Linked DNA regions of Homo sapiens. The protein of the gene in region 1 binds, or shares a complex with, the protein of each later gene. Links are inferred from orthologs where the notes say so. Each region holds a gene or a part of one and is shown in the gene's direction. Other genes may lie near its edges.

Evidence for each region.
Region 2: the proteins of DFFA (region 1) and DFFB are in contact, whole or in part, in an NMR structure (PDB 1F2R), measured with the Mus musculus proteins. The link is inferred for Homo sapiens from one-to-one orthologs. Residues at the interface, in NP_001020467.1 of Mus musculus: Asp66, Thr68, Ile69, Val70, Asp71, Asp72, Asp74, Tyr75, Trp94, Tyr96, Asp100; in NP_031885.3 of Mus musculus: Cys10, Lys12, Arg14, Ala19, Cys20, Lys21, Phe22, Gly23, Val24, Ala25, Ala26, Arg39.

The regions. Positions count from the first base shown.
Region 1 is NC_000001.11:10,464,988-10,479,936, reverse strand, and holds the start of DFFA (DNA fragmentation factor subunit alpha), read left to right. Parts: upstream 1-7,407; 5' UTR 7,408-7,478; coding exon 7,479-7,614; intron 7,615-10,598; coding exon 10,599-10,760; intron 10,761-12,604; coding exon 12,605-12,747; intron 12,748-14,949. Other genes in the region: peroxisomal membrane protein PEX14, read right to left, coding at 4,857-4,970. UniProt on the Homo sapiens protein: Inhibitor of the caspase-activated DNase (DFF40).
Region 2 is NC_000001.11:3,853,185-3,867,817, forward strand, and holds the start of DFFB (DNA fragmentation factor subunit beta), read left to right. Parts: upstream 1-4,291; 5' UTR 4,292-4,419; coding exon 4,420-4,533; intron 4,534-5,533; coding exon 5,534-5,660; coding exon of another isoform or gene 5,661-5,682; intron 5,683-7,235; exon of another isoform or gene 7,236-7,322; intron 7,323-12,458; exon of another isoform or gene 12,459-12,533; coding exon of another isoform or gene 12,534-12,627; coding exon 12,628-12,816; intron 12,817-13,099; coding exon of another isoform or gene 13,100-13,119; exon of another isoform or gene 13,120-13,218; intron 13,219-14,633. Other genes in the region: CEP104 (centrosomal protein of 104 kDa), read right to left, coding at 2,690-2,783. UniProt on the Homo sapiens protein: Nuclease that induces DNA fragmentation and chromatin condensation during apoptosis. Degrades naked DNA and induces apoptotic morphology.

The DNA.
Region 1 (14,949 bases):
CAGACTCCAACTCCTGGGCTCAAGCAATCCTCCAGCCTCAGTCTCCTGAGTAGCTGGAACTACAGACATGCACCACCACACCCAGCTTTAAGGGTAACTATTATTGCTCTCGTTTTACAGAGGAGAAAACATACTCAGAAAGGTGGAGTGATAAGTCCAATAGTTGTGAGTGATGAAGTTCCACCAAAACCTGCCAGGATGCGAAGCCATGCTCTTCCACTCTTTCACTCTGCTCTTCTCCCTGCCTGCTTCTGTAGCCTCTCAATGCAAAATTTACTGTACCCAGTGAACCTCCACAGATAGGAAATCTACCTTCTGCAATAATACTCGATACTCAGTAACTGTGAAGTAATCAGATTGAACCATGCCTCTGCTGTTCAGCGAAGGAAGAAAAGCTAGTAGGAAAGTTGGGAAATAGAGATAACGTTTCTCATTCCTACGGGCTCCAACGTGTACACACTAGAAAGGACTTCAATGAGAGATCAGCCATGCTGGCTGGGCGTGGTGGCTCATGCTTATAATCTCAGCACTTTCTCTCTCTCTGTCTCTTCCCCCGTCCCCAAACAGGGTATTGCTCTCTCACCCAGGCTGGAGGGCAATGGCACAATCACCGCTCACTGCAGCCTCAACCTCCCAGGCCCAAGTGATGCTCTCACCTCAGCCTCCAAAGTAGCTGGAACCACAGGCAAGCACTACCATGCCTGGCTAATTTTTTAATTTTCAGTAGGAACGAGGTCTCCCTATATTGCAAAGGCTGGTCTCAAACTCCTGGCCTCAAGCGATCCTCCCAACTCAGCCTCCCAAAGTGCTAAGATTACAGGTATGAGCCATCACGCCCAGCCAGGAACTCACCACTACAAAAATTGTTTTAAAAATACATTAGCCAGGCCAGGCACAGTGGCTCACACCTGTAATCCCAGCACTTTGGGAGGCCGAGGTGGGCGGATCACGAGGTCAGGAGATCGAGACCATCCTGGCTAATACGGTGAAACATCGTCTCTACTAAAAATGAAATAAAAAAAAAATAGCCGGGCGTGGTGGCAGGTGCCTGTAGTCCCAGCTACTCTGGAGGCTGAGGCAGGAGAATGGTTCGAACCCGAGAGGCGGAGCTTGCAGTGAGTTGAGATCGCACCACTGCACTCCAGCCTGGGCGACAGAGCGAGACTCTGTCTCAAAAAAAAAAAAAATACATTAGCCAGGCATGGTGGTGCACACCTGTAGTCCCGGTTACTCAGGAGGCTGAGACGAAAGGATTGCCTGAGCCTGGGCGGGCAAGGATGCAGTGAGCCATGATCACACCACCGCACTCTGGTGACAGAGTGAGACCCTGTCTCAATCAATAGATCAACCACATAAAACAGAGCAATGTGGGGAACACAGAACAAAGGAAGCAATAAATGAAATTCCAGCAAGTCGTCTTGAGGATAGACTAAAAAGACTATACCATTATGAAAAAGTAAGTATGTTCCTGAAATGCAAAAGTCATGAAGGACAGCTAGAATAAACACTAGCATTCAGGGCATTCCTTGAAATTTTAAGGAATTACTTCTGAATAAAAGAACTTTACTAGACAAGTAGTCAACACATGAAAAATCATACCCCAAAAGATGTCGTAATAGAACTTGAAGAAAGGTTTAGATCCATTTGTGAGTGAAAACTCAGAGCTTATTAAATTGAATAATAATAATAATAGACAACACATTGTTTCAGGCACTGTTCTGGCATTTTTACATAAATAACTCATTTAAGGCCAGGTGCAGTGGCTCACGCCTGTAATACCAAGCTCTTTGGGAGGCCGAGGTGGGCAGGTTACCTGAGGTCAGGAGTTTGAGACCAGCTTGTCCAATATGGTGAAACCCCATTTCTACTTAAAAAAAAAAATTAGCCAGGCCTGGTGGTGCATACCTGTAGCCCCAGCTACTTGGGAGGCTGAGGCAGGAGAATCACTTGAACCTGGGAGGCGGAGGTTGCAGTAAGCCGAGATCGCGCCACTGCACTCCAGCCTGGTCAACAGAGTGAGACTCGGTCTCAAAAATAAATAAATAAATAAATAACTCATTTAGTCCTCAGAGCAACTCTGTGAGATAGGTCCTAGTATTTTCCCTGTTTTGCACATGGAGAAATTAAGTCTAGAAAAATTAAGTAGATCTGTCCGAGATGACATTGCTGGTAAGTTAGTGGAGTTAGGATTCCAAGCCAGTGGGTCTGGCTTTAGAGCCTATACTTGTAACCGCTATTCTACACTGCCTCTCAAGGGAAGAGAAGGTTATTCACCTTTAATAGCTGGAAACCAGAGATTGATATGACAAGGCTAACCAACAAACTTTCTGTGAAAGACAGAATACTGGCTCAGCCCCACAGTTCTAACCCTACACAACAAGGCGTGGGGGAATTAGCTAAACAATCCTTTCAATCCTACTCTGCTTTAATCGGAGAAATGGGAAACTGGATTGATCAAGACTTGAAAATGAAACAGGCAATTGCTGAAGAGCATTGGTTCATTCAAAAAGCGTGCATTTGCTTCTTGTTAGATAGCCATAGAGTCTGTTATGAAAAGTTCAAGTTTTGGCCAGGCACTGCAGCTCACGCCTGTAATCCCAGCACTTTGGGAGGCTGAGGTGGGCGGATCATGAGGTCAGGAGATCAAGACCATCCTGGCTAACACGGTGAAACCCCATCTCTACTAAAAACACAAAAAATTAGCTGGGCATGGTGGCGGGCGCCTGTAGTCCCAGCTACTAGGGAGGCTGAGGCAGGAGAATGGCGTGAACCCAGGAGGCGGAGGTTGCAGTGAGCAGAGATCGCGCCACTGCACTCCAGCCTGGGTGACACAGCGAGACTCTGTCTCAAAAAAAAAAAAAGAAAAGTTCAAGTTTTTCCCCCAGGCTGCCAGCATGTTCTGTGGCAATCCTACCTCCACCAGCTTTGGAAAGGAGGGCAAAGGAGAAGCAGAGCTGAAAATCAAACAAGTGATGGCCATGCCCCCTTAAAGGACCTTAGATCCTTTTCTATTAAATACATATACAGAGAGGGCAAACTTGCAAAACCAAAAGAATCCTTGGGCATAACAGTGGCTCCAAGTGGCAAGATTTTTAGTACTGTTTACAGCACTGGCAAATTAAATGTCCTATAAGAATCAGGAACAGAGCCGGGCACGGTGGCTCACGCATATAATCTCAGCACTTTGGGAGGCTGAGGCGGGCAGATCACTTGAAGTCAGGAGTTTAAGACCAGCCTGGCCAACATGGTGAAACCTATCGCTACTAAAATTACAAAAATTAGTCAGGTGTGGTGGCAGGCACCCGTAGTCCCAGCTACTTGGGAGGCTGAGGCAGGAGAATTGCTCGAACCCGGGAGGCAGTGAGCCGAGATTGCGCCAATGCACTCCAGCATGGGCGACAGAGAGAGACTCCGTCTTAAGAAAGAAAAAAGAATCAGGAACTGAGGACACCCTTCAATCCCAGCCTGTGGGCATTCCTAACACAAAACAATTCAGAGAAACCCAGACCCCAAGATGCCTTAGTATTTCAGCAAACTAAATGTGGTAAGGCAAGAAAGGAGAGGCCCTCCTCTCGAGACACTTGCCAAACTCCAGAACACCTGACAGTGAGAAGGCCAGAATCAGTCCTTGTTATCTCCCATGTTTTACAATCAAGACATCTTCTTCCTGAATCATTCACACTGCTAATAGAAACTGGTATGGGGGAACACACCAACTCCTTTAAGTTCAATTCTTGTAACAGACGTGCAGAATAAGACAGTAAGAAACACTAAGCGGTGGTCTTCTGCCTCTGAAGGAAGTGAAATACTAGTAAGTTGCTGAAAACTCTTAGAGGTGCTTCAAGGAGATGGGAGAGGAGGAATGAGGCCCCAAGTTGAAACTATTTTCTTCTTCCTCATTCTAATCCTAACTAAACTCAAAAATGTATGGATGACTAGTGGAGTCACACAGGTTCAATACAGGCTCAACAGAGCACACGATTTGGGGCATGTCACAAACCCTTAGTATTCATTTCTGTGAAATGGAGGTTAGTAGCCTGCACTTCATAAAGGTTGTAGTGAACACTAAACGAGATAATAGATGTAATTTGTGCTCAACATGACACCACACAGGCAGTTAAATGTAAGATGTCTCTTAGCCCTTTTCTCCTCACCCCACCCTACCCCACCTTTGGACTATAAACCCCTTCGGAGACCTTATCATCCACTGCCTCCCGGCCGCAGAGGCACAGGCGTCAACGCTGGTCCTTATGGTCCCCTTATTGGAGTGGGATTTGTCTGAATCTGCAGGTGAAAAGCTAGAGCGGAGCCCTCGGCCAACAAAACCAAACCCAGGGAAGCGAGGATGGGTCCTCAGCCAAAAGCTTGGTGGCGTCTGTTAGTCACAGTGCGTCCCTTTCCTATCAACGCACTGAGAGGGCTCGACTAGATTATTTCTGACTATCCAACTTGACGAGAGAAGCGCAAAGGTGACCACAGATGAAGAGGCTGGCAGCCGCTCCAGGAGGCTGAGGCCGTGAGGGAGTGGGAACCCTAATGGAAACAGGCCCCTCCCCGGAGGGGACAGCCGGGAACGATCGATCTATCCTCTCCTTCTCAAGCCCTCGCAGCTCAAGGCTGGGGACTTCCCAAGGGTCCCGTCACCCTCCCCAACAAGCTCAAGTGGGACCAGAGGTGCTGGCAGGCGGGAAGTGGGGACCCGGGGGCACAGCCAAACACCAGAGCCCGGGCTCCGGAATGTGGTCAAAGAGGGGTCACCGGGGGGAGGGGCCGGGTGGGGAGGACCTGGGGAGGGGCGGGGCTCAGGAGGGGGCAAGAGGTCGGGGTCCCCAGCTTCGGAGACTCGGGGTCCCTACCCGGCTCCCAGCCGTATGCTGAGCGCCCCCTCCAGCCGGGGTCTCCGCCGCACAGCGGGGCAGTCCCACTCCCCTTACCTGGCTCGGCTGCTCTGCCTGCTCCGAGGACGCCATCTTTCTGAGGCCTGACTAATCAACCGCCGCTGGGCGAGGTTTCTCCCAGGCGCCCTCGCTCTCGCCCTCCCGCCCAGACTAAGGTAGCCGGAACAGAGCCTGTCGATGTAGGGGACTGGGGCAGAGGGGTGGAGCCCGGGTGTCCGGGTCACCTTGCATAGTTTCCGTTAAGACTCTGCTTTCCAGGAAGATCCCAAGTCTATATCTTCTTTGCGTTGTTATATGTGTATTATTCTGGTTTTGCTTTTTTTTTTTGAGACGGAGTTTCGCACTTGTTGCCTAGGCTGGAGTGCAATGGCGCGATATCGGCTCACCGCAACCTCAGCCTCCCGGTTTCAAGTGATTCTCCTGCCTCAGCCTCCCGAGTAGCTGGGATTGCAGGCATGCGCCACCATGCCCGGCTAACATTGTATTTTTAGTAGAGATGGAGTTTCTCCATGTTGGTCAGGCTGCTCTCGAACTCCCGACCTCAGGTGATCTGCCCGCCTCGGCCTCCCAAAGTGTTGGGATTACAGAAGTGAGCCACAGCGCCCGGCCCATATTATTCTTATTGAGTTAATCTCTGCCCATCCCCACAGTGCCATGGGCACATTTAGGGACTTGCCAATGGATGAATGCGAAGAAACTTGGAAATTAATTTTTAGACATCAGTTCAGTTCCATTCATTGAGTGCCTACTATATGCTAGGGACTTTGGTAGGCCTTGAAATAAAAACATTCAAGACTCAATCCCTACTCCCACGCCCAGGCCAAACACACTTACAATTACAGTATTATGGGGATAGGACTCGGATAAGTGTGCAGGTCTATTGGGAGAACATAAAAGGGGGCATTTTGAAGAGAAGAGGCTTCTACAAAACGTCATTATTTTACACTGGTTGAATTGTTAGATTTTTTTAATTGTTAGATTTTAAATTAAATATTGGACGGGAGCAGTGGCTCACACCTGTAATCCCAACACTTTAGGAGGCCAAGGCAGGAGGATCCCTTGAGCCCAGGAGGTTGAGGCTGCAGTGAACTATGATTATGCCACTGCACTCCAGCCTGGGCGACAGAGCGAGACCTTGTCTAAAAATAAGATAAGAAAATAAAAAATGAAATTATATGAAAAAGGATACATACATTAGAGTTAACCGCCAGCTCCTATTATAGTTGTGTTTTGATCAATATAGACTGCTTAAAAGGGATGACTTAATGAATAATTCCTCCTACTAAACGCTGTTTTAAATGTCTAAACTTTTCTTGAGATAATATCCAATTTCCTCTCCCACGTTTTTTTTGTTTGTTTTTGCTTTTGTTTTTGTTTTTGCTTGAGACGAAGTCTTGCTCCTGACGCCCAGGCTGGAGTGCAATGGTGCGATCTGGGCCGACTGCAACCTCCGCCTCCCGGGTTCAAGCGATTCACCTGCCTCAGCCTCCCAAGAGCTGGGACTACAGGCGTGCGCCATCACGCCCGGCTAATTTTTGTATTTTTAGTAGAGATAGGGTTTCACCATGCTGGCCAGGCTGGTCTCAAACTACTGACCTCAGATCATCTGTCCGCCTCGGCCTCCTAAAGTGCTGAGATTACAGGGGTGAGCCACCGCCCCCGGGGCCCTTGCCCACGTTTTTATAAACAAAATATGAGGTGGGAGGATTGCTTGAGCCCAGGAGATCAAAACTGCAGTGAGCCATCATCGCGCCACTGCACTCCAGCCTGGGAGACAGAGCGAAACGCTGTCTCAAAAAAAGAAAAAAGAAACAAGGAAGGAAAGTGTCCCCCGAATGAATAAATATGAGCAGATAATTACTTCTAGTTTACATAAAATGCCCTCTTTTAAGAGAGGAACTTTTTGATCATTTTTATTACTATTCTTTTAATCTTAGATGTTTATTTTTCAGGAGGAAAAAAACAAACTTTTCCATAGTAGCAGTATTAAAACAAAGATGAATATGTTGTCAAGAGGCATCTGAACAATCTCCAACAGTGCCGAGTCGCATTTCCCCTTTCCTCTCCGATGCATTTGAGACTTTAATGCTTACTATATTTATTTAAGCGTTTTGTTCTGAGACCCCAAACTAATTTGCACAGTTGAAGCAGGAAATAGAATGGGTGGAAACATGCGGGTGTCTGTATTAGCATTATGCATCTCATATGCGAATAGGAATGCTCTAAAAATTCAATACAGTATACATGCGTGTGCATCGTCATGCAAAATAAGTCTCTATTGGCCTTATATTTGAACGCGCGAATGCAGCTCCTAAAAGTTAAAAACAACTCCTAGGCTGAATCGCGCGATAGAACGAAAGCGGCTTTAAACCCAGAGACTACAGTTTCCGGCATGCTTCGACGCCACACGTGATTAGCGGCAACTAGAACTACATTTCCCGGCGTGCCCTGGTCTCACGTGTGATTTGCTGCGGAACGAACTACATCTCCCGGCAGGCTGCGGAAGGGGGTCGAGTAGAAGGACCGCCGCTCCGGCCTCCCGCGACTTCTCGAAGGTGGGCAGGTCCCACCTTGTGGAGGATGGAGGTGACCGGGGACGCCGGGGTACCAGAATCTGGCGAGATCCGGACTCTAAAGCCGTGTCTGCTGCGCCGCAACTACAGCCGCGAACAGCACGGCGTGGCCGCCTCCTGCCTCGAAGACCTGAGGAGCAAGGGTTGGCTCGGGACCCCGGGCGAGGGTGTGGGGGAGCCAGGGCCGGGTGAGGACGTCCGGCGGGGGCGAGGCGGGGTCAGGAGAGGCGACTTGGGGATTCTTGTATCTCGGGTGGAGGCTTGGGACAGAAACGGTCCGAGTGGGCATAGCGATTTACAGATTTAAGGCGCTTGAGCGTAATTAATCTCGTGTGAGACTCCACGGTGGTGGGAAGACAGCCAGGAAGCAATGTGCAAATTAAGCCAGACTCGGCTTAGGTCTCTTGCCTGAAATCACTTCGATGTTGGACCAAACGGACCCCACTGGGTTCCTGCCACTCCGCCACACTCAGATGGTACAAGAACCCCCAGCTGAGCCCACGGCGGTGTGGGGAGGGGTTTCCACCGTCCGCTCTGGCAGGAACCTATGCAGGAAAGAGGGAGCTGCTACTGACCATTTCTGGAGGTCCAGACAAGGAACGTGAGTTGTAAGTGACGGAGCCGACGGAAGTTCCGAGCCCGGCCCCATACCTTTACCAGCTGCTTGGCCTTGCACTTAACCAGCTCTCAACCCTCAGTTTTCTCATCAGCAAATTGGGTATAATATTTATAGCCCTGCTTCAAAGGGTTGTTGGTTCTCTCAAATAAGATGATATATTTAAGTGACTTACAAGTCTTATTAGCCAGTAGCAACAAATCGCTTACCCAAAGAAGTTTTACAGGTTACATGTGTGAGCCAGCCCCAGGCATGTAGTCACAGTGTGTGTCAGAGGGCACAGTTGCTTCCTCTCAGTCACCAACAGAAATCATATGGAAATTTTCAGAGACCCATGAACAGCCAAAGCATTATAAATGCTTTGGTAACATGGATTTTGCATATAAGCATTTATGTATTTTTTTTCCTGACATTAGATTACTTTACTTCTAATTCCCCTTCAGTGCCGTGGCTGGATGTGCGTGGCACAGAGGCTGGTGTTCTCTGCAGTCCAGCGCATACATGCCTTGCTGTTCTATTGGGTGGTAGACAACACCGCTGAAGGATATTTGTAGTCTCTTGGCTATTTCTGATCACTCCAGTCCCGTTAGTATTTGAAGCATTGCTATCACTAAATGGAATAGTACAGACCTGTCCTGGAGAAAGCCTCTCCGCCAATGATAATGATATGAAAAGCTACTGATAGAAGCTTCCACTTCTTTTATACTTTCCCATAGGTTAGAAAAGAAGCTGCTAAGGAAGATACTGTAAAGAACAAAAAGCATTTTCTTTTTTTTTTTTTTTTTTTGAGACGGAGTGTCACTCTGTCACCCAGGCTGGAGTGCAGTGGCGCTATCTCGGCTCACTGCAAGCTCCGCCTCCCGGGTTCACTCCATTCTCCTGCTTCAGCCTCCCGAGTAGCTGGGACTACAGGCGCCCACCACCACGCCCATCTAATTTTTTGTATTTTTTAGCAGAGACGGTTTTTCACCATGTTAGCCAGGATGGTCTCGATTGCCTGCTTTGTGATCCACCCGCCTCGGCCTCCCAAAGTGCTGGGATTACAGACGTGAGCCACCGTGCCTGGCCTTTTTGGTGTATTTTTTGACATTTTTACACATAGGAGAATTTAAGAGGACACCTGAGGGCCGGGTCCGGTGGCTCACACCTGTAATCCCAGCACTTTGGGAGGCCGAGGTGGGCGGATCACGAGGTCAGGAGATCGAGACCATCCTGGCTAACACGGTGAAACCCCGTCTCTACTAAAAATACAAAAAAATTAGCCGGGCGTGGTGGTGGGCGCCTGTAATCCCAGCTACTCCGGAGGCTGAAGCAGGAGAATGGCGTGAACCCGGGGGGCGGAGCTTGCAGTGAGCCCAGATAGCGCCTGGGCACTCCAGCCTGGGCGACAGAGTGAGACTCCGTCTCAAAAAAAAAAAAAAAAAAAAGAGGAAAACTGAATAAATGAATGAGAGACTGCTTGTTTGCAAGGAATCAAACTAGACTTTGATTGGTTGTTCACTCCAGTAAAAACTCAAATGCCTACCATACATGAGTGTGGAGTAGCTGGAGTAAACATACTTTCAGGAGCCAGACTTTGTGGGTTTAAATCCCAGCTTTGCCACTTACTGTGTGATCTTAGACAAGTTACTTAACCTCTCTGAGCCTTGGGTTCATCATCTATAAAACAGAACTAATAAAAGTACCTACTTTACAGGATTATTATGAGATTAAATACTGTATATGAAAAGCACTTAGGCCAGGCGCGGTTGCTCATGCCTGTAATCCTAGCACTTTGGGAGGCCGAGGCAGGTAGATCATTAAGTCGGGAGTTCCAGACCAGACTGGCCAAGATGGTGAAACCCCGTCTCTACTAAAAATACAAAAATTAGCCAGGCACGGTGGCCGGTGCCTGTAGTCCCAGCTACTCGGGAGACTAAGGCAGAGAGTTGCTTGAACCCGGGAGGCGGAGGTTGCTGTGAACCAAGATTGTACTACTGCACGCCAGCCTGTCTCAAAAAAAAAAAAAAAGAAAGAAAGAAAAGCACTTAGGGCTGAGCACAGTGGCTCATGCCTCTAATCCCAGCACTTTGGGAGGCCAAGGCGGGTGGATCATGAGGTCAGGAGTTCGAGACCAGCCTGGTCAACATGGTGAAACCACGTCTCTACTAAAAATACAAAAATTAGCCGGACATGGTGGTGCACGCCTATAATCCCAACTACTCGGGAGGCTGAGGCAGGAAAATCACTTGAACCTGGGAGGCAGAGGTTTCAGTGAGCCGAGATCGCGCCAGTGCACTGCAGCCTGGGTAACAGAGTGAGACCCTGCTACAAAAAAAAAGAAAAGAACACTTAGAACAGAATCAGGCACGTGATGAGTGTTCTGGTAGTGCTAGAAGTGATGATTGTGATTCTAGTTATTACCTACCAGGAGTTCTGCTCAGCTCTGGAGCCATACATACTTGAGATGCAGGGATAGATGTAATTTCCTTACGGTTATTTGTCATTTGCCAAATATTTTATTCTTTTCAGCCTGTGACATTCTGGCCATTGATAAGTCCCTGACACCAGTCACCCTGGTCCTGGCAGAGGATGGCACCATAGTGGATGATGACGATTACTTTCTGTGTCTACCTTCCAATACTAAGTTTGTGGCATTGGCTAGTAATGAGAAATGGGCATACAACAATTCAGGTAAGAAACTCTAGCCATGTATAAAACGGCCTATGCAGTACAGCATCCATCATGATTACTTTCACTGCACAGACAATTGCCATTTGTCTGGCTTTTTAAGCATTTGTTCAACAGATATTTACTGAGCACTTTCTATGTGCCAGACATGGTGCTGAGTCCTGGGGATAAAGATGAATGAGGCCAGGCACGGTGGGCAGATCACCTGAGCTCAGGAGTTTGAGACCAGCCTGGCCAACATGGCGAAAGTCCATCTCTACTGAAAATACAAAAACTAGCTGAGCATGGTGGCAGGCACCTGTAATCCCAGATACTTGGGAGGCTGAGGCGGGAGAATTGCTTGAACCTGGGAGGTGGAGGTTGCAGTGAGCTGAGATTGTGCCACTGCACTCCAGCCTGGGCGACAGAACGAGACTCTGTCTCAAAAAAAAAAAAAAATAGATGAATGAGACATGGGCCCAGTTCTCAACTAACTCATGGACAGACAGCAACTGAAATGCAGCCTGGCAGGGAGCTCAGTGCTGCAGGCTGCAGTCCAGCTGTTGAGGTCTGGATCCTGGCTCTACCATTTACTAACCAGGTGACCTTGTGCAAATTACATAACTTCTCAGTGCCTTGTTGACATAATAATTATAGAACCTGTCCCCTAAGATTGTTGTAAAGATAATATAGTACATATCAAACCAGGGTTTCTCAATGACACTGCTGACATTTGGGGCTGGAGTTGTGAAGAGGATGCTTTGTGTATGATAGGACGTTTAGTAGCATCCTAGATGTTACGAACCTCCCCCCACAACTGTGATAACCAAGAATAAATGACTCCAGATATTGTCAGATGTCTCCTGGGGGGCAAAATTGCTCCCACTTGAGAACCACTGATATGAAGTGTTTAGATCTTACCTGGCACATAGTTAAGGACTCAATAATTGTTACCTGTCCCTGCCATCATCATCATCACAGGAGATAGAAAGGGGACTAACATTGGTGACCAAGGATCAAGAAGTGTCTTGAGAGGGGATTAGTTTTAGGGAGGGACTTAAAAAAAAAAAAAGTGTCCTGAAGTGTGCCACAAAATTGAGGAAGTCATCCTACAGCAGTGGCCCTACCAGCCACCTTTGTGCTCAGGCCTAAGGGACAGCAATCGATGGCTACAGCTCTGCCAGTTAAAGAAGGGACCAATCCCCAAGCACAGAGAAATGCTGGCACAAATGACCGTTTTCGTATAAAAAACAGGACACACCTGGACACACAGAAACCAGAAAGGGAAGTGTGATTGGATTCCTTGTAGGTGTGACCACACATTGGGTTTAAATGGCTTTTTCTATGGAAGAATACAGAGCCGTTGCACACAGAGATAAAGATGAAAGAGGGTCAGGCACGGTGGCTTATGCCTGTAATCCCAGCACTTTGGGAGACCGAGGTGGGCAGATCACTTGAAGTCAGGAGTTTGAGACCAGCCTGGCCAACATGGTGAAAGCCCGTCTCTACTAAAAATACCAAAATTAGCTGGTCATGGTGGTGGGCACCTGTAATCCCAGCTACTTGCAAGGCTGAGGCAGGAGAATCGCTTGAACTCGGGCAGTGGAGGTTGCAGTGAGCCAAGATCGTGCCACTGCACTCCAGCCTGGGCAACAGAGTGAGACTCTGTCTCAAAAAAAAAAAAAATGAAAGAAGAGGGAAAATCAAGGTCCTGGATGGATATTGACCCTCCTGTGAATCCTTGAGATAAGATGCTTCTTTCCCATTGAAATTAATCTAGATCCTCAAGAGGTCTGTGTGTGCTGGGGGAGGAGGTGAAAACAGCACTTCAGGTTGTTCTGTGACTGGCATTTTCTCCCATGTGTCAGATGGAGGTACAGCTTGGATTTCCCAAGAGTCCTTTGATGTAGATGAAACAGACAGCGGGGCAGGGTTGAAGTGGAAGAATGTGGCCAGGCAGCTGAAAGAAGATCTGTCCAGCATCATCCTCCTATCAGAGGAGGACCTCCAGGTAAAGCCTCCTCCACAACCTGCAACAATGTTCATCCAGCCTCTGCCCCCCGCCCCAGCACCTTCTTAGCTTCCATACTTGCCATAGCAATTTCTTTGTTTTAATCTTAATTTTTAAATAATTCTTAAATTACAACTAAGATTTTTCATCTTCTCATTCTCACCTAGAGTAATTTTTCAACCCTCGTCACGAAGCAGAATTACCTGTGGATTTTTTTTTTTTTTTTTTTTTTTTTTTGAGACACAGTCTTACTCTGTCGCCCAGGCTGGAGTGCAGTGGTGCAATCTCAGCTCACTGCAGTCTCCACCTCCCGGGTTCAAGCAATTCTCCTGTCTCAGCGTCCCAGGTAGCTGGAATTACAGGTGCACACCAACACGCCTGGCTAATTTTGGTATTTTTAGTAGAGACAGCGTTTCATCATGTTGGCCAGGCTGCTCCTGAGTTCAAGTGATCCACCTGCCTCAGCCTCCCAAAGTGCTGAGATTATAGGCGTGAGCCACCGTGCCCGGCCAGATTTTTTTTTTAATACAAATGCCTGGGATCCACCCTAAACCTAGTTAGGTGGACGCTGGGGTCAGGGATGCCCTGCTAGAGAATGTAGCGTTGGAGTAGATGGCTTCACATCCCAGCGCTGTCACCACGACTTTGAGCCAGTAGCTTAGCTTCTCTCCTTGTGTTTTCTCTCTAGTAAGATTGGGATAGGCCAGGTGCAGTGGCTCACGCCTGTAATCTCAGCACTTTGGGAGGCCGAGGCGGGCAGATCACGAGGTCAGGAGATCGAGACCATCCTGGCTAACATGGTAAAACCCCATCTCTACTAAAAATACAAAAAATTAGCCGGGCCTGGTGGTGTGCACCTGTACCTGTAGTCCCAGCTACTCGGGATGCTGAGGCAGAAGAATCGCCTGAACCCAGGAGGTGGAGCTTGCAGTGAGCCGAGATCGCACCACTGCACTCCAGCCTGGGTGACAGAGAGAGACTCCATCTCAAAAAGAAAAAAAAGATTGGGATAAAAACAGTATGTTTTCATTCAAAGAAAATTTCTCTTTGAGACAGGGTCTTGCTTTGTCACCCAGTGCAGTGGCATGATCATAGCTCACTGCATCCTCGACTTCCTGGGCTCAAGCCATCCTCCCACCTCAACCTCTCAGGTAGCTGAGACTGTAGGCTTGCACCACCACACTGCGCTATTTTTTCTTTTTTTTTTTTTTTAATTTTTGTAGGCCAGGTGCAGTGGCTTATACCTGTAATCCTAGCATTTTGGGAGGCCAAGGTGAGCAGATTGCCTGAGTTCAGGAGTTTGATGTGGTAAAACCCTATCTCTACAAAAATTAGCTAGGTGTGGTGGCGTGTGCCTGTAGTTCCAGCTACTCAGGAAACTGAGGCAGAAGGATCACTTGAGCCCAGGTGGTCAAGGCTTCAGTGAGCCATGACTATACCACACCAACCTGGGCAACAAAGCAAGACCCTGTCTCAAAAATAAATAAATAAATAAATAAAGCCAGGCGTGGTGGCTCACACCTATAATCCTAGAACTTTGGGAGGCCGGGGCGGGCAGATCACGATGTCAAGAGATCAAGACCATCCTGGCAAACATGGTGAAACCCCGTCTTTACTAAAAATACAGCCGGGCACGGTGGCTTAACGCCTGTAATCCCAGCACTTTGGGAGGCTGAGGAGGGTGGATCACAAGGTCAAGAGTTCAAGACCAGCTTGGCCAAGATGGTGAAATCCCGTCTCTACTAAAAATATAAAAATTAGCCAGGCGTGGCGGCAAGCACCTGTAATCCCAGCTACTCAGGAGGCTGAGGCAGGAGAATCACTTGACCTGGGAGGGGGAGGTAGCAGTGAGCAGAGATCACGCCACTGCATTTTAGCCTGGGAGACAGAGCAAGACTCTGTCTCAAAAAACAAAAAAATTACAAAAATTAGCTGGGCGTGATGGCGTGTGCCTGTAGTCCCAGCTACTCAGGATGCTGAGGCAGGAGAATAGCTTGAACCCAGGAGGCGGAGGTTGCGGTGAGCCGAGATCACGTCATTGCACTCCAACCTGGTGACAGAGCAAGACTCAGTCTCAAAAAAAATAATTAATTAATGTTTTATAGAGAGGAGGTCTTCACAGGTTGCCTAGGCTGGTCTTGAACTCCTGGGCTCAGGCAGTCCTCCCACCCTGGCCTCCCAAAGTGCTGGGATTATTGATAT
Region 2 (14,633 bases), 6.6 Mb from region 1:
CATTAACAACTGCTAAATGAATGTGTATGACCAGAAGGAAGAGCAGGAATGACAGGCAGGCATATTAAGTACAAAAAGGTTCATGCAGAGTTAGGTTGAGGGACTGACTCACAGGACATTGAGCCCAATTTGCTCAGGGACTCTGGGTTACTTTTCAGTTACTAAGCCAGTCAGATTCCTCCTAAGTAAGCCAATTTGGGTTAGGTCTAAATCATCGGGGGAAAAAAAAAAAGGCTCCTCACTAAACCAGGATAAAGAAGACTCCATCAGAAAGTTCTCTGGGATAAGATATACTATTAATTGAAATTCCCAATAGGAGGTAACATATAAACATACCCCCACATAAAACTGTACGTATTTTGACATGCTTGATGCATGATCTAGATCTTTCTTTTACTTTCATTGAGAATTCGAAGAGGACCACTTCAATATATTAATTATTGGCTGGCATTATTGCTAATGTTTCTTGGAATGTATGAACAAAAGCACTAAAATAGAATGATAAACCATCGAGATTCTAGTTATTTTTTGCACAAAGTTCACTGCAAGATGTTACTGTATATTAAACAAAAACAAAACTAAACCAACTCAGAAAATAATTTTTAAAAAGCCCCCCAGAACAGGATGAGGCTGGGTGTGGTGGTTCCTGCCTATAATCTCAGCACTTTGGGAGACCGAGGTGGAAGGATCACTTGAGCCCAGGAGTTCGAGACCAGCCTGGGTAAGAGAGTGAGACCCCGTTTCTAAAAAACCAAACAAAAAAAGAATTTTGAAAGGATGAGTGTGATTTAACCCACTGTTAGCTGCACGGCCCCACCTGCACTCTGGGCAACCTATGCCAGAAACGCACAGCCCATGGCTCCCACTCCTTCGTGACCTGGCACTTCTGGGTCGCATGGGCTCTGAGCCTAGAGGTACTTTTCCCTTGGCCACAGCATCTCTCTTCACCCACTCCCCATCCAACAGTGTGCCAGGTCTTATCAGGCCTGCCCTTCCTTCTGATCCCACTGTCTTTTCTAGACAGCAACCACCTGGTGTCCCCACCTGAAGCGCCTCCCTCAGACAAGTCCTAAGTTCCTATTGTGTGAACGTGCCTCAGGCCCAGCTCCAGTCATCTCCATCCATGTCCTAACTCCAGAGCTCTTGGTGGGCTCCCCATCTAGGGATCAATGCGCCAACTCTCCCCTGACCCTCACTTCTTGTCCTGAATTCTGAAGTCCAGCCAAACAATCAAAGCTCAAAGTTAATACCCTTCAGCTCTGAAGCCCTCCAATCCTTTCATCAGCTTTTTTTCCTTTTTTGAGACAAGAGTCTCAATCTATCACCCAGGCTGGAGTGCAGTGGCGTGATCTGGGCTCATTGTAACCTCTGTCTCCCTGGTTCATGTGATTCTTGTGGTTCAGCCTCTCAAGTAGCTGGGATTACAGGCATGCACCACCATGCCTGGCTAATTTTTTTTTTTTTTTTTTTTTGGTATTTTAGTAGAGACGGGGTTTTGCCATGTTGGCCAGGCTGGTCTCGAACTCCTGGCCAATCTGCCCGCCTTGGCCTCCCAAAGTGCTGGGATTACAGGCATAAGCCACCATGCCAGGCCCCTTTCATCATCTTTCAGGGCAGGGCTTGTCACTCCCTATTCCACCTTGAAAATACCTCTTGTGCCCAGGCTGTTGGGTTCCAGTCTCCAAATTTTTTTTTTTTTTTTTTTGAGAGAGGGTCTCACTCTGTCACCCAGGCTGGAGTGCAGTGGCGTGATCGCGGCTCACTGCGACCTCTGCCTCCTGGGTTCAAGTGATTCTCCCGCCTCAGCCTCCCAAGTAGCTAGTATTACAGGTGCGCACCACCACACCCAGCTAATTTTTGTATTTTTAGTAGAGATGGGGTTTCACCATGTTGGCCAGGCTGGTCTCGAACTCCTGACCTTAGGTGATCCACCCGCCTCAGCCTCCCAAAGTGTTGGGATTACAGGCGTGGCCAATAAGCCCAGCCCCGATTTTTTTTTTTTTTTTTTTTTTAATACAGGTTCTCGCTCTGTTGCCCAGGCTGTACTGCTGCAGTGGCGTGATCATAGCTCACTGTAACCATGAACTCTCGGGCTCAAATGATCCTCTTGTCTCAGCCTCCTGAGCAGCTAGGACTACAGGCACATGCCACCATGCACAGCTACTTTTTTTTTTTTTTTTTGTAGGGATGGGGTTTCACTGTGTTGTCTAGGCTGGTCTTGAACTCCTCCCACCTTAGTGTCCCAAAGTGTTGGGATTACAGGCGTGAGCCGCCGAGCCTGGCTAGTCTCTGAACCTAACCAACACTCTCTGTTACGGCTCGAAGACATAAATATAGGACCTTTTCAGTCAAACAGAAGGGTGTTTCCAGTATGCTATACTGCCCCCAACAAATCTAAAACAAAGTACTGGCATTTAAGAACCAGCTAAGAGAAATGCACAGGGACTGTGGAGGCAATGCTATTACCTCAGTCTGGTATTTGAAAAGGATTCCTTTTTTAGTCTACCCCCTCCCAAAGACCTTCCAGTTGTACCCTAGGGTCCCCTCTGTGTAAACCTTCAAGTGTTACATAAGATACTTGGAATGTCACTGAAGGATGCCACTTTTAGGCTCTATAAAAATCACCATTAACAATTTGGGAAGAAGCAAAGCTCTGTTGAACATCCAGTTATTGGCTGGTCTTCCTCACCAGAGGCATGAGGGATCCCTGTTGTCCCAGGGGCAGCCATCGACATCCCGACAAATGCCAGAGTACATCTCTCCCCAGGCAGCGATGACTCCATGGCGGTCTCATCCCTCACTACACTTTTCCTAGTGCTGGCATGGTAAAAGGCAATTAACTATAAATTAAACGGAAACTCAGTGTAGCAACTTCCATTTTGTTACAAGACTAGGAAACAAAACTTGTCTCTGATTTTCTTTTTAAGAAGACTTTTAAGTGTGACTGCGCGCGGTGGCTCATGCCTGTAATCCCAGCACTTCGGGAGGCCGAGGAGGGCGTATTACTTGAGGTCAGGAGTTCGAGACCAGCCTGGCCAACATGGTGAAACCCCGTCTCTACTAAAAATAAAAAAATTAGTCGGGCTACTCGGGAGGCTGAGGCAGGAGAATCGCTTGAACCCGGGAGGCGGAGGCTGCAGTGAGCTGAGATCGTGCCATTGCACTCCAGCCTGGGCGACAGAGCGAGACCGTCTCAAAGGCTTATGGGTTTCTGATCAAGTCATCTTAGCGACTGAAAGGGCTTCAGAGAAATCTGAACTTAAGTGCAAACAAAACAAAACAAACTCCAAAACAAAAAACAACCAACCATCAGACTTTAATCTCTATAGGGACAGAGCAATTTTCCTCAAACTTTTGCTCAGCAGAACACATCTGAAACTGGCCCCCTATGTGCTACGCATCCAGAAGAGGAAAAGCCGGATCTGAAAACAATATTCCACGCTAAATGGGCCGTCCCGGCCGGGGCAGGCGGTCCCAGCACCCGTGCTGAGCTCCCCGGCATACGGCACGACGGGGCCGCGCCGGCTCTTCGGCGACAGCAAGGCCGGCATCTAACTCCACACCGTCCGCGCTTGCACCGCGCACCCAGGCTTCGTACCCAGCTCCCAGGTGGGGACCGCGCCCCCGCGGCGCCCGCGCCCCGCGCCCCGCGCCCCGCTCCCCACTCCGGCCCTGGGCCGGCGCCGCAGCGGCCCGGAAGGTACCTGCTTAGAGGGAAGGGCCCCGACTGGCGCTGCCGCGGCCCCGGTGGAGAGGGCGGCTGGGTCGGAGCGGTGCCGCGGCCCGGGGAGGCGGCCAGGCGGCGCCTCAGCACCCGGACCCCAGGGGCGTGCGGGACCCGGCTCTCGTGGACTTCCTCGGCAGCCGCCGCTTCCTCAGACGGAACTCGGGGGGCGCCCCTTCCGCCGCCCCAGGCCGCCTTGCACCCCAAGCTGCTGCGGCAGTGACAGGGAAGAAGCAGACCCGGCCACCTCTGCCCATAGCCCCGGCCGCAGCCTCCACTCTCATGACAACCAAGCCCAGCCCTGGGCCAGGGCCTCTGCGCGTGCGCGACCCCGCCCCACCCCAGGCCGCGCCTGCGCACAAGGGGAGGGCTCCGCTACTCTGGCCCTCAGGGTTGTGTAGTTTCCGGGGCCACGGCACCTGGGCACACCAGGTGGCGTCGCGCCTTTGCTTTCCTGAGCCTTCTGAGTAAGGTAATGTGGTGTCCGTGGGGCGACGCCTGCGCACAAGACCGCGTCGGGCCTCACTTTTCCCAGGCCTTCTGGGTAATGTAGTTTCCGGGATCGGCACCCGGCCTGTGCCAGCTTGCAGAGCTCACCAGGTGCAGACCCCTGCGGCCAGGGCGAGGACGGATCTGAGCAGCTGGGCAGCAGGTGCCACCGCCTGTGGGACCCAGAGGGCTTGAGGACATCTGCAATGCTCCAGAAGCCCAAGAGCGTGAAGCTGCGGGCCCTGCGCAGCCCGAGGAAGTTCGGCGTGGCTGGCCGGAGCTGCCAGGAGGTGCTGCGCAAGGGCTGTCTCCGCTTCCAGGTGCCCGCTGGGCTAGGCGGGGACGGCCCGTCGGGGAGGCGTGTGGGGAGAATAGGAGGTGCCGCTTTTCCTCTTCCAAAACGGAGGGTGCAGGCGGCGCCCGGGGCGGGTAGTTTTCGTTCGCCTCAGCCGCTAGGACCCCGGGCCCCCGCAGCCTGGGGTTCCTGAGCGTGGCTTCAGAACGCAGGGGGGTTGGGGGACGACCTGGATCACCCCTTCCCTCTTCCCACCTCTCGGGCAGGACAGCCCTGCATCAGAGCTAGGAGACCCGGGTAGAGTGCCAGGTACTGGCACGCGGGGTCACGGCTGCTCTGCCTGTCCGGCCTCAGCTTCCCCTTGAGTAACATGAAAGGCTTGGCTAGGTGGGCTCTGCAGGCCCCTTCCAGCCCTCGCAGCTGGGGATTGCAATCGTCACCTTATTCTAGGTTGGTTTTCTTTTTAGACCAGTACTAGGGTTACCAGGTGTGCATTGCCGGGGTCGGTGCGGGTGGGGTGGGAGTAGCCATAAAATGCCTAAAACTGACCAGTGCAGAGTAACAGGGAACCGGACTCCAACAAATTAACAGTGCCACGTGCCGGTCACACTTGTGCACAGAGGCAACCAACCGTTCTCCTTCGTGTGCCAGCACCGCTCTGGCGGCTGTGTGCTGGGGATGGTGGTGTTCAGCTCCTGGCAGCAGGGAGGCGGCGCTGTCAAAGACAGGCTCTATTTGAAGCGCCCTCAGGAGCTCATTTAAAAAGGGTGAATCCTGCAGAGCCAGCAGTCACCCCCTGATGTATGTTTTTCCTGACTCTTCGTATTTTAGAACGGCCCGCAGTCAGGCGCCCTTGCTCCCGCTCCCTCATCCTTGCCTGGGCGTTGGAGCGACTGTGGCATACAGGCGGCAGCCTGAGCCTGCTTCTTTAAGCACAGCTCATTCCGGTCGTTTGTGAGGCCTGCAGATGCAAAGCCCTCGTCTTGAGACCCTTCCTCCTCCTGTTGCTTCTCCCGTCCCTGCAGCTCCCTGAGCGCGGTTCCCGGCTGTGCCTGTACGAGGATGGCACGGAGCTGACGGAAGATTACTTCCCCAGTGTTCCCGACAACGCCGAGCTGGTGCTGCTCACCTTGGGCCAGGCCTGGCAGGGCTGTGAGTGGCAAGGACTTTGGAGGTGGGCGGGAAGCTGGCACTCTCCGAGGTCCTGGGGGCTTAGCTCCAGGTGCCCATCAGGGTGGGGAAGAGTCCCCCTTACTGTGAACTCTCGGGTCTCAAGGAGGAAGCCCTCTGGAGGCAGAACTGGTCAGCGTCGCTTAGGTGGCAGAGTCCTCAGTCCTCTCGTTCATGAACCCAGCTGTTCAATTGGTCGTCTTTTTCTTCAAAAAATCTTTTAATTTTATTTGCGTTCATTTGAGGTGTCCTAGCAATTCCCAAGAGCAGAGGGAGGGCTTTGGGGTTGGGGCCTGCACAGTTTCATGGGGAAGGTGGAGCCAGGAAGAGATGCTGTTCTGTTCTGCTGGGCTGAGCACCCTTCTGGAAGGACGAGGTGGTGGTTCGTGGGATGCTCTCACATTGTTCTCGGTTGGTGTTTGCTAAGATGCTGTCCTCAGGGCTCAAGTTTGGGGGCAATTGCTTTGAGAGGTGGTTCTTTCGGGGCATCTGTATTGAAGCCTCAGGACACAAAGTCCTGCCTTTCAGAACCAGCCGAATGCCAAGGTCTGCGCTTGTTTGACTCCCGTAAAAGAGAGCTTTTGGCCACTGGGGCAGGAGATGCCATCATGTGCCTTTACCTGGGAGGGTCGGCCAGTGTTGTGCAAATGGGGTCAGGCTCCAGGAGATGCTTCTGGCAGCCCAGGAAGGACATGGGTGCTCTGAGGGATGGAGCTGTGGCTCCTTGGCCTAAGGGGCAAAAAGAGAGAAGTCGAAGAGTAACATCCATGTGGCCACCTCCCCGGCTACAGTGTTGGGGGCTCCACTGTCAGCATTGAGGGGTGACGCCTCTGGTGTGTGCTCCAAGGTTGCAAACCCCCTTTCTCCACTGGGCCTTGTGCTTTTAGAGGAGGCAGCTGGAAAATGTATCACTGTGATGCCCCCTGGGGTGGCCCCTGCAGGAGGTGGGGGCTGGGCAGGGGTATGCTCAGGGTATGCCTCACCTTTGGATGTTATCTTTCTTTCCCATTTCAGGGCATAGTTGAAAGACAGCAGAGCACGTTGCTCTCTCTCTGTCTCTCCCTGCATCTCGCAGTCTCTGTCTCTCTCCTCTGTCTCTGTCTCTGGCTCTCTCTGTCTGTCTCTGTCTCTCTCTCTCTCTGTCCTTCCTTTCTCTGGCGCTTTATCCTCCTCTCTTCGCTGAGACCGCTAGTCCTCCTCCTTGTTAGACTTAAAAAAAATTTTTTTTCTTTTCTTTTATGAAAACATTGAGATGGGGTCTCCCTCTGTTGCACAGGCTGGCCTCAAACTCCTGGGCTCAAGAAGTCCTCCTACTTTGGCTTCCCAAAGTGCTGGGATTACAGGCATGAGCCACTGTGCCTGGCCAAAATATTTTTGTTTTATTTATATTTTGAAACTTTGTTGCCCAGGCTGGAGTGCAGTGGCACAAACCTTGCTCACTGTAGCCTCGACCTCCGTGTTTCAAGTGATCCCGTTGCCTCAGCCTCCCAAGTATCTGGGACCACAGGCATGCATTACCACGTCTGGCTAATTGTTTTGTATTTTTTGTAGAGATAGGGTTTCGCCATGTTTCCCAGGATAGTCTCACACTCCTGGGCTCAAGCTGTCCTCCTGCCTTGGTCTCCTAAAGTGCTGGGATTACAGGTATGAGCCACTGTGCCTGGCCTAAACCGTTTATTTAGAAATAATGACAGATTCCCAGGAAGTTGCACAGATAGGAAGGTCCAATGTACCTCTACCCTTTCCCTCAAAGGCAACATCAGATACAACCGTGGTACAATATAAAACAGGAACACCGACACTAGTGCAATGTGCATGTTGTTCTGTCATTTCTCCCCATGTAGATTCCTGTGACCAGCATCAGGGTCAAGGTACAGCCCTCTCCCATCCATCACTCAAGGTTCTCCCCTTTATAATCCTGCCTACCCCTGCCCACCAGCAATCCCTAGCCCGTAGCAACTGCTGATATGTTCTCCATGTCTATAATTTTGTCATTTAAAGAATATTAGGGGCCAGGTGCGGTGGCTTACACCTGTAATCCCAGCACTTTGGGAGGCCGAGGTGGGTGGATCACCTGAGATCAGGAGTTCAAGACCAGCCTGGGCAACATGGTGAAACCCCGTCTCTACTAAAAATACAAAAATTAGCTGGGCATGGTGGCGGGCGCTTGTAATCTCGCTACTCAGGAGGCTGAGGCAGGAGAATCGCTTGAGCCCAGCAGGTGGAGGTTGCAGTGAGCTGAGATTGTGCCATTGCACTCTAGCCTGGGTGACAGGCTGAGACTCCATCTCAAAAAAAAAAAAAAAAAGAATATTAGGTAAGTGGAATCATAAAGTATGTGACCTTTTGAGATGAGCCTTTTTCACTCCACATAAGGCTCCCGAGATGCATGTAAGTTGTGTGTATCCATAGTCCGTTCCTTTTCATTGCTGAGTAGCATTCCATGGTTTGGTTTTACCACAGTTTGTTCAACCATTCGCCTGTGGAAAGATATTTTGTTTGTTTCCAGTTTTTGACTATTACAAATGAAGCTGCTCTGGCCAATTATGTACAAGTTTTTCTTTTTTCTTTCTTGTTTTCTTTTGAGACAGGGTCTCACCCTGTCGCCCAGGCTGGAGTGCAGTGGTGCAATCATAGCTCACTCTAGCTTTCACTTCCTGGGCTCAAGCGATCCTCCTACCTCCGCCCCTGAGTAGCTGGGACTACAGGGGTGCACCACCATGCCTGGCTAATTTTTGTATTTTCTGTAGAAACAGGGCTTCATCATGTTGCCCAGGGTGGCCTATAACTCCTAGGCTCAAGCAATCTACCCGCCTTGGCCTCCCAAAGTGTTGGGATTACAGGCGTGAGCCACCGCACCTGGCCATCTTGACAGGTTTTTGCGAGATGTAGGTTTTCATGCCTCTGGGGAGAATGCCCAGGAGTACAGTGCTGCGTTGTGTGGTGTGTGTTTAGTTTCTGAAGACAAGGATGTCCACTCTTGCTGCTTCTGTTTAACATGGTACTGCAGGGTCTAGCCAGGACATTTAGGCAAGAAAAATAAAAAGCATCCAGATTGGAAAGGAAGAAGTGAAGCTATTTCTATTTGCAGATCATATGAACTTGTATGTAGAAAACCCTAAGGAATCCACTAAAAAGTGATTAGAACTAATCATCAAGTTTAGCAAGGTTGAAGGATATAAGATCATATGCAAATATAGAAATACACTTCCAACGAACAATCTGAAAATGAAGCAGAAAATCATCCCATTTACACTGGCATCAAAAAGAATAAAATACTTAGGATAAGTGTAACAAAAAATTGTAATACTTATATTCTGAAAACTGCAAAATGTTGTTGAAAGAAATTAAAGTTTTGAATAAATGGATTAACATCCCATGTTCATGGATTGGAAAACTTAACATTGTTAAGATGGTGGGACTCCCCAAACTGACCTACAAATTCAACACAATCCCTATGAAAATTCCAGCTGGTTTCATTGTAGAAATTGACATGCTGATTCTAATCCACAGTTCATATGGAATTGCAAGAGACCCAGAATAGCCAAAACGACTGTGAAAAAGAAGATAGTAGGAGGACCCACATATTCTGATTTCAAAACTTAGTACAAAGCCACAGTAATCAAGACTGACACTGGTACAAGGACAGATATATAGATCAATGGAATAGAACAGAGCACCCAGAAATCTATGTATCTGTGGTCAGGATGCCAGGACCATTCAACGGAGGGGGAAGAGTAGTATCTTCAACAGATAGTGCTGGGACAACTGTATATTCACATACAAAAGAATGAAGTTGGACTCTTAGCTGGTACCTTATACAAAAAGTACAATAAATGAAAGACCTAAATGTAAAAGTTAAAAATATAAAGCCCTTAGAAGAAAACATAGCGATAAGTCCTCATCGCCTTGGATTTGGCAAAAGATTCTTAGATTTGACACCAAAAACATGAGCAGCAGAAGAAAAAACAGATAAATTGGGCTTCATCAACATTAAGAACTCTGGCCCGGGCACGGTGGCTCAAGCCTGTAATCCCAGCACTTTGGGAGGCCGAGACGGGCAGATCACTTGAGGTCAGGAGTTGAGACAAGCCTGGCCAACATGGTGAAACCCCGTCTCTACTAAAAATACAAAAATTAGCCGGGCGTGGTGGCAGGCGCCTGTAATTCCAGCTACTCAGGAGGCTGAGGCAGGAGAATTGCTTGAACCGGGGAGGTGGAGGCTGCAGTGAACGACAGCCCACAGAATAGGACAAAATAGTTGCCAATCATGTATCTAATACGGGACTTGCATCAGAATATATAAAGAATCCTTATAACTTAATAGTAAAAAGATAACCCAATTAAACATGGGCAAAGGTTCTGAAAAGAAAGAAATGTCTCCAAGGAAGATATTCAAGTGGTCGTAAGCACAGGAAAAGGTGCTTGAGATCATCAGTCGTCAGGGAACTGCAAATCAAAACCACAGTGAGATGCTACTTCACACCCACTAGGATAACAACCAGTGTGGGCGAGGATGCAGAGCGGCTGGAACCCTCAGGCCCCATTGATGGGAAGGGAAAACGGTGCAGCTGCTGTGGAAAATAGTCTGGCAGTTTCTCAACAATTACACAGAATCGCCATGTGACCCAGCAGCTCCACTCCTAGGTATGTACCCAAGAGAAATGAAAACACGTCCACACCAAAACTCGTCCGTGAGCGTTTACAGTAGCTTTATTCATAATAGCCAAAAGGTAGAAACCACCTAAGTCTCCAATGATGAACACTTGGATCAATAGAGTGTGGCACATCCATACAATGGAAGTACTCACCATGAAGAGGAATGAAACACAGCATGGCCGAGCCTTGAAACCATGCCAAGTCAAGAAGCCTGCACATACAGTAGGGTTCCATTCATAGGAAATACCCAGAACGGGGATGTTAGAGAGATGGAAAATAGATTAGTGGTTGTTTAGGGTTGGGGGTAGGGTAGAGGGGAGGGAGGTTGGTAGCTAAAGAGTATGAGGTTTCTTTTTGAGGTGGTGAAAATGTTCTGAAATTGACTGTGGATGTGGCTGCACAACTCTGGGAATATAATAAAACCCATTGTATTGTACACTTTATTTATTTTATTTATTTTTTTTGAGATGAAGTCTTGCTCTCTCCCCAGGCTGGAGTACAGTGGCGCGATCTCGGCTCACTGCAACCTCTGCCTCCTGGGTTCAAGCGATTCTCTTGCCTCAGCCTCCCGAGTAGCTGGGGTTACAGGCATGCACCACTGCGCCCAGCTAATTTTTGTATTTTTAGTAGAGACAGGGTTTCACCATGTTGGCCAGGATGGTCGCGATCTCCTGACCTTGTGATCTGCCTGCCTCGGCCTCCGAAAGTGCTGGGATTACAGGCGTGAGCCACCGCGCCCGGCCTCTGAATTGTACACTTTAAATGGGTGAATTATAAGGAGTGTGAATTATATTTCAATAAAGCTACTTAAAATAAAGAAAAGAAACTGCCAAGTTGTGTGCTAGAGTGGCCGTCTTACCTTTCCACTGCGCAGTTTCTGTGCAGCCTCGCCAGCTTTCGGCGCTGTTGCTGTTTTTAATTTTAGCCATTCTGATTGCAGTGTGGTGATGTCTCGTTGTGCCCTTAATATGCATTTCCCTAATGGCTAACAATGCTGACTATCTGAATATCTTTTATAAAAACAGAGACAGGGTCTCACTCTGTTGCCCACGTTGGAGTGCAGTGGCAATCATGGCTCACTGCAACCCTGAACTCCTGGGCTCAAGCGATCCTCCTACCTCAGCCTCCCAAGTAACTGGGACTACAGGTGTGCACCCCCATGTGCCGCTAATTATTATGATTTTTTTTAGAGATGGGGGTCTTGCTTTTTTTTTTAGAGATGGGGTCTTGGTTGCCAGGTTGGTCTCAAACTCCTGCCCTTAAGTGATTCTCCCACCTCGGTCTCTGAAAGTGCTGGGATTACAGGCGTGAGCCACCGCGCCCAGCCCTAAATATCTTCTTATGTGCTTATTTGCCATCTGTAGATTCTCCTTGGTGAAGTGTTTCTTCCTGTCTCTTGTCCTTTTTCTAATTGGCTTATTTATCTATTTTTTTACTGTTGAGTTTTGAAAGTCACGCCTCACCCCACAAACAAAATACCTGGACATGAGTTCTTTGTCAGACATGTGGTTTGCAAATATTTACCCTGTGGCTTTTCATTCTCTTAAGAGCATTTTTTTTTTTGCGGAGTAAGAGTTTTTAGTTTTGAGGAAGCTCAGTGTGTTGATTTTCTCTTTTACGCAGTGCTTTTGATGTTAGGTCTAAGGACTTCCACCAAGTCCTCACTCCCCAGCATGTCCTCCTGTCTTCTTCTGACCCACTGATGTGATCGTGAGGCTTTTCTCATATGGTGGATCGCACTGATCGATTTGCAGGTGTGAACCAGCCTTGCGTTCCCACTTGGCCGTGGTGATATTTCTTTGTGCATGTTACTGAGTTCTCTTTGCTAACATTTTGTTAAGGTCCTGGGTAGACTTTGCTTTAACTTCCTATTAAGAGCCTGCCCGGAGAGCTCGCTGCTTTAGGGAGTTGTGAAAAGGCTCCAGGAGAGAGTAGGAAAAGTGATCGGAAGGATCTGAAAGCAAGGTCTCCAGGAAGGGCCAAAGTGGGGGGCGTATGGTTTGGAGGGGAGGAGGCCAAATGGGAAAGCGGCCGTCTCTTGGTGCGCTTTCATCTGTCCTCTAAAGCACACCCTGCCCCTCCCTCCTCTGTCCTCATGCCGCCCTTGTGCGTGGTCCCCAGCTGTTGGTGTCAGGGCAAGGACAAAGACCCGGGACACCTCAAGTCTGAGTCCTGGTGATTGCCAGGCCCTGGGGAATGGGGGAAGATGTGGTCAGAGGCTCTTCTTGTGACCGGGGCAGGATGTGTCTTCTGCTGGACCGGCACCTTTTGTTTGTCCCATTGGTGGCAGATGTGAGCGACATCAGGCGCTTCCTCAGTGCATTTCACGAGCCACAGGTGGGGCTCATCCAGGCCGCCCAGCAGCTGCTGTGTGATGAGCAGGCCCCACAGAGGCAGAGGCTGCTGGCTGACCTCCTGCACAACGTCAGCCAGAACATCGCGGCCGAGACCCGGGCTGAGGACCCGCCGTGGTTTGAAGGTGCGTGGGGGCTGCAGCTGGCAGGGGAGAGGCTTCTTTGGAGCCTGAGGTGCCAGAAGAAGTTGGATTCCAAAAAGCCCCCAGTGAAGGGCTGGCCTGTACCCTCGTGGGTTGAGGTGGGGGACTTGGAAGAAAATGTGCTCATTTCCCAGCATTTCCCAGCCTCGTGGGAAAGGTACCCAGCAAGGACTCAGGTGGGGCCAGAGTCCAGGGCAGCCCTCGGATGGGACTTTTTATATTTTTATAGATATGTTTTGAGATGGAGTCTTGCTCTGTCCCCCAGGCTGGAGTGCAGTGGCGTGATCTTGGCTCACCGCAACCTCTGCCTCCCTGCACCCTCTGCCTCCCAGGTTAAAGCGATTCTCCTGCCTCAGCCTCCCGAGTAGCTGGGATTACAGGCAAGTGCAACCACGCCCTGCCAATTTTTGTATTTTTAGTAGAGATGAGGTTTCGCCATGTTGGCCAGGCTGGTCTCAAACTTCTGATCTCAGCCTCCCAAAGTGCTAGGATTACAGGCGGGAGCCACCCCGCCTGGCCTATTATAATTATTTTAAAAATTGTGCTAAAGTACATATGACATAAAATTTACCTTCTCAATCATTTTTTTAGTGCACAGGTCATCGGCATTAGGTACAGTCACATTGTATGCGGCCATCCCCACCGTCATCTCCGGAACTCCTTCCACCTTGCAAAGCTGAACCCGTGTCCCTGTTACATCACTCCCCCTTCCCCCTCCGCCAGCCCCTGGCCACCACCATTCCGGTTTCTGTCTCTCTGATTTGATGACTCTAGGGACCTCATATGAATGCAGTCACATAGTATTTGTCCTTGTGTAACTGGCTTATTGCACTCAGCACAGTGTCCTCAAGGTTCATCCATATCGTAGCGTATATCAAAAGTTCTTTCTTTTTTTGAGACAGAGTCTTGCTCTGTTGCCCAGGCTGGAGTGCAGTGGCGCGATCTTGGCTCACTGCAAGCTCCACCTCCCGGGTTCACGCCATTCTCCAGCCTCAGCCTCCCGAGTAGCTGGGATTACAGGTGCCTGCCACCACGCCTGGCTAATTTTTTTGTATTTTCAGTAGAGACGGAGTTTCACTGTGTTAGCCAGGACGGTCTCAATCTCCTGACCTCGTGATCCGCCCGCCTCGGCCTCCCAAAGTGCTGGGATCACAGGCGTGAGCCACCACGTTCAGCCAATTTCCTTCTTTTTAAGGCCAAATGACAGTCCACTGCGTGTACATACCACGCCATCTATTCACTCCACTGCGTGTACATACCCCACTCTGTCCATTCACTCCACTGCGTGTACATGCCACGCTCCGTCTGTTCACTCCGCTGCGTGTAGATACCACACTGTCTATTCACTGACACTTGGGTTGCTTCCACCTTTTGGCCTGGCCTTGTAAGCCCATCAGAGGCGATGCTGAGAGATTGTAGCCTTTTTGGGAAAGGAGGGCTTGAGGGCCAGGCAGAAGCTCCTTGGTGGTATTTGAGATGCTTCTAACAACAAAAACCAAACAGGGATGCTGTCTGTGTCGCCATTAGAATACTTCTCAAGATGATGCAATCTGGCCAGGTGTCGTTGCTCACACCTATAATCCTAGCACTTTGGGAGGCCGAGGCTGGAAGACAGCTTGAGCCCTGGAGTTCAAGATCAGCCTAGGTAACAAAGTGAGACCTCATCTCTAAAAACATTTAAAAAGTGAGCCAGGTGTGGTAGTGCGTCCCTGTAGTCTTAGCCACTTGGAAGTCTGAGGCAGGAGGATTCCCTGAGCCCAGGAGGTTAAGGCTGTAGTAAGCTGTGTTCGTGCCACTGT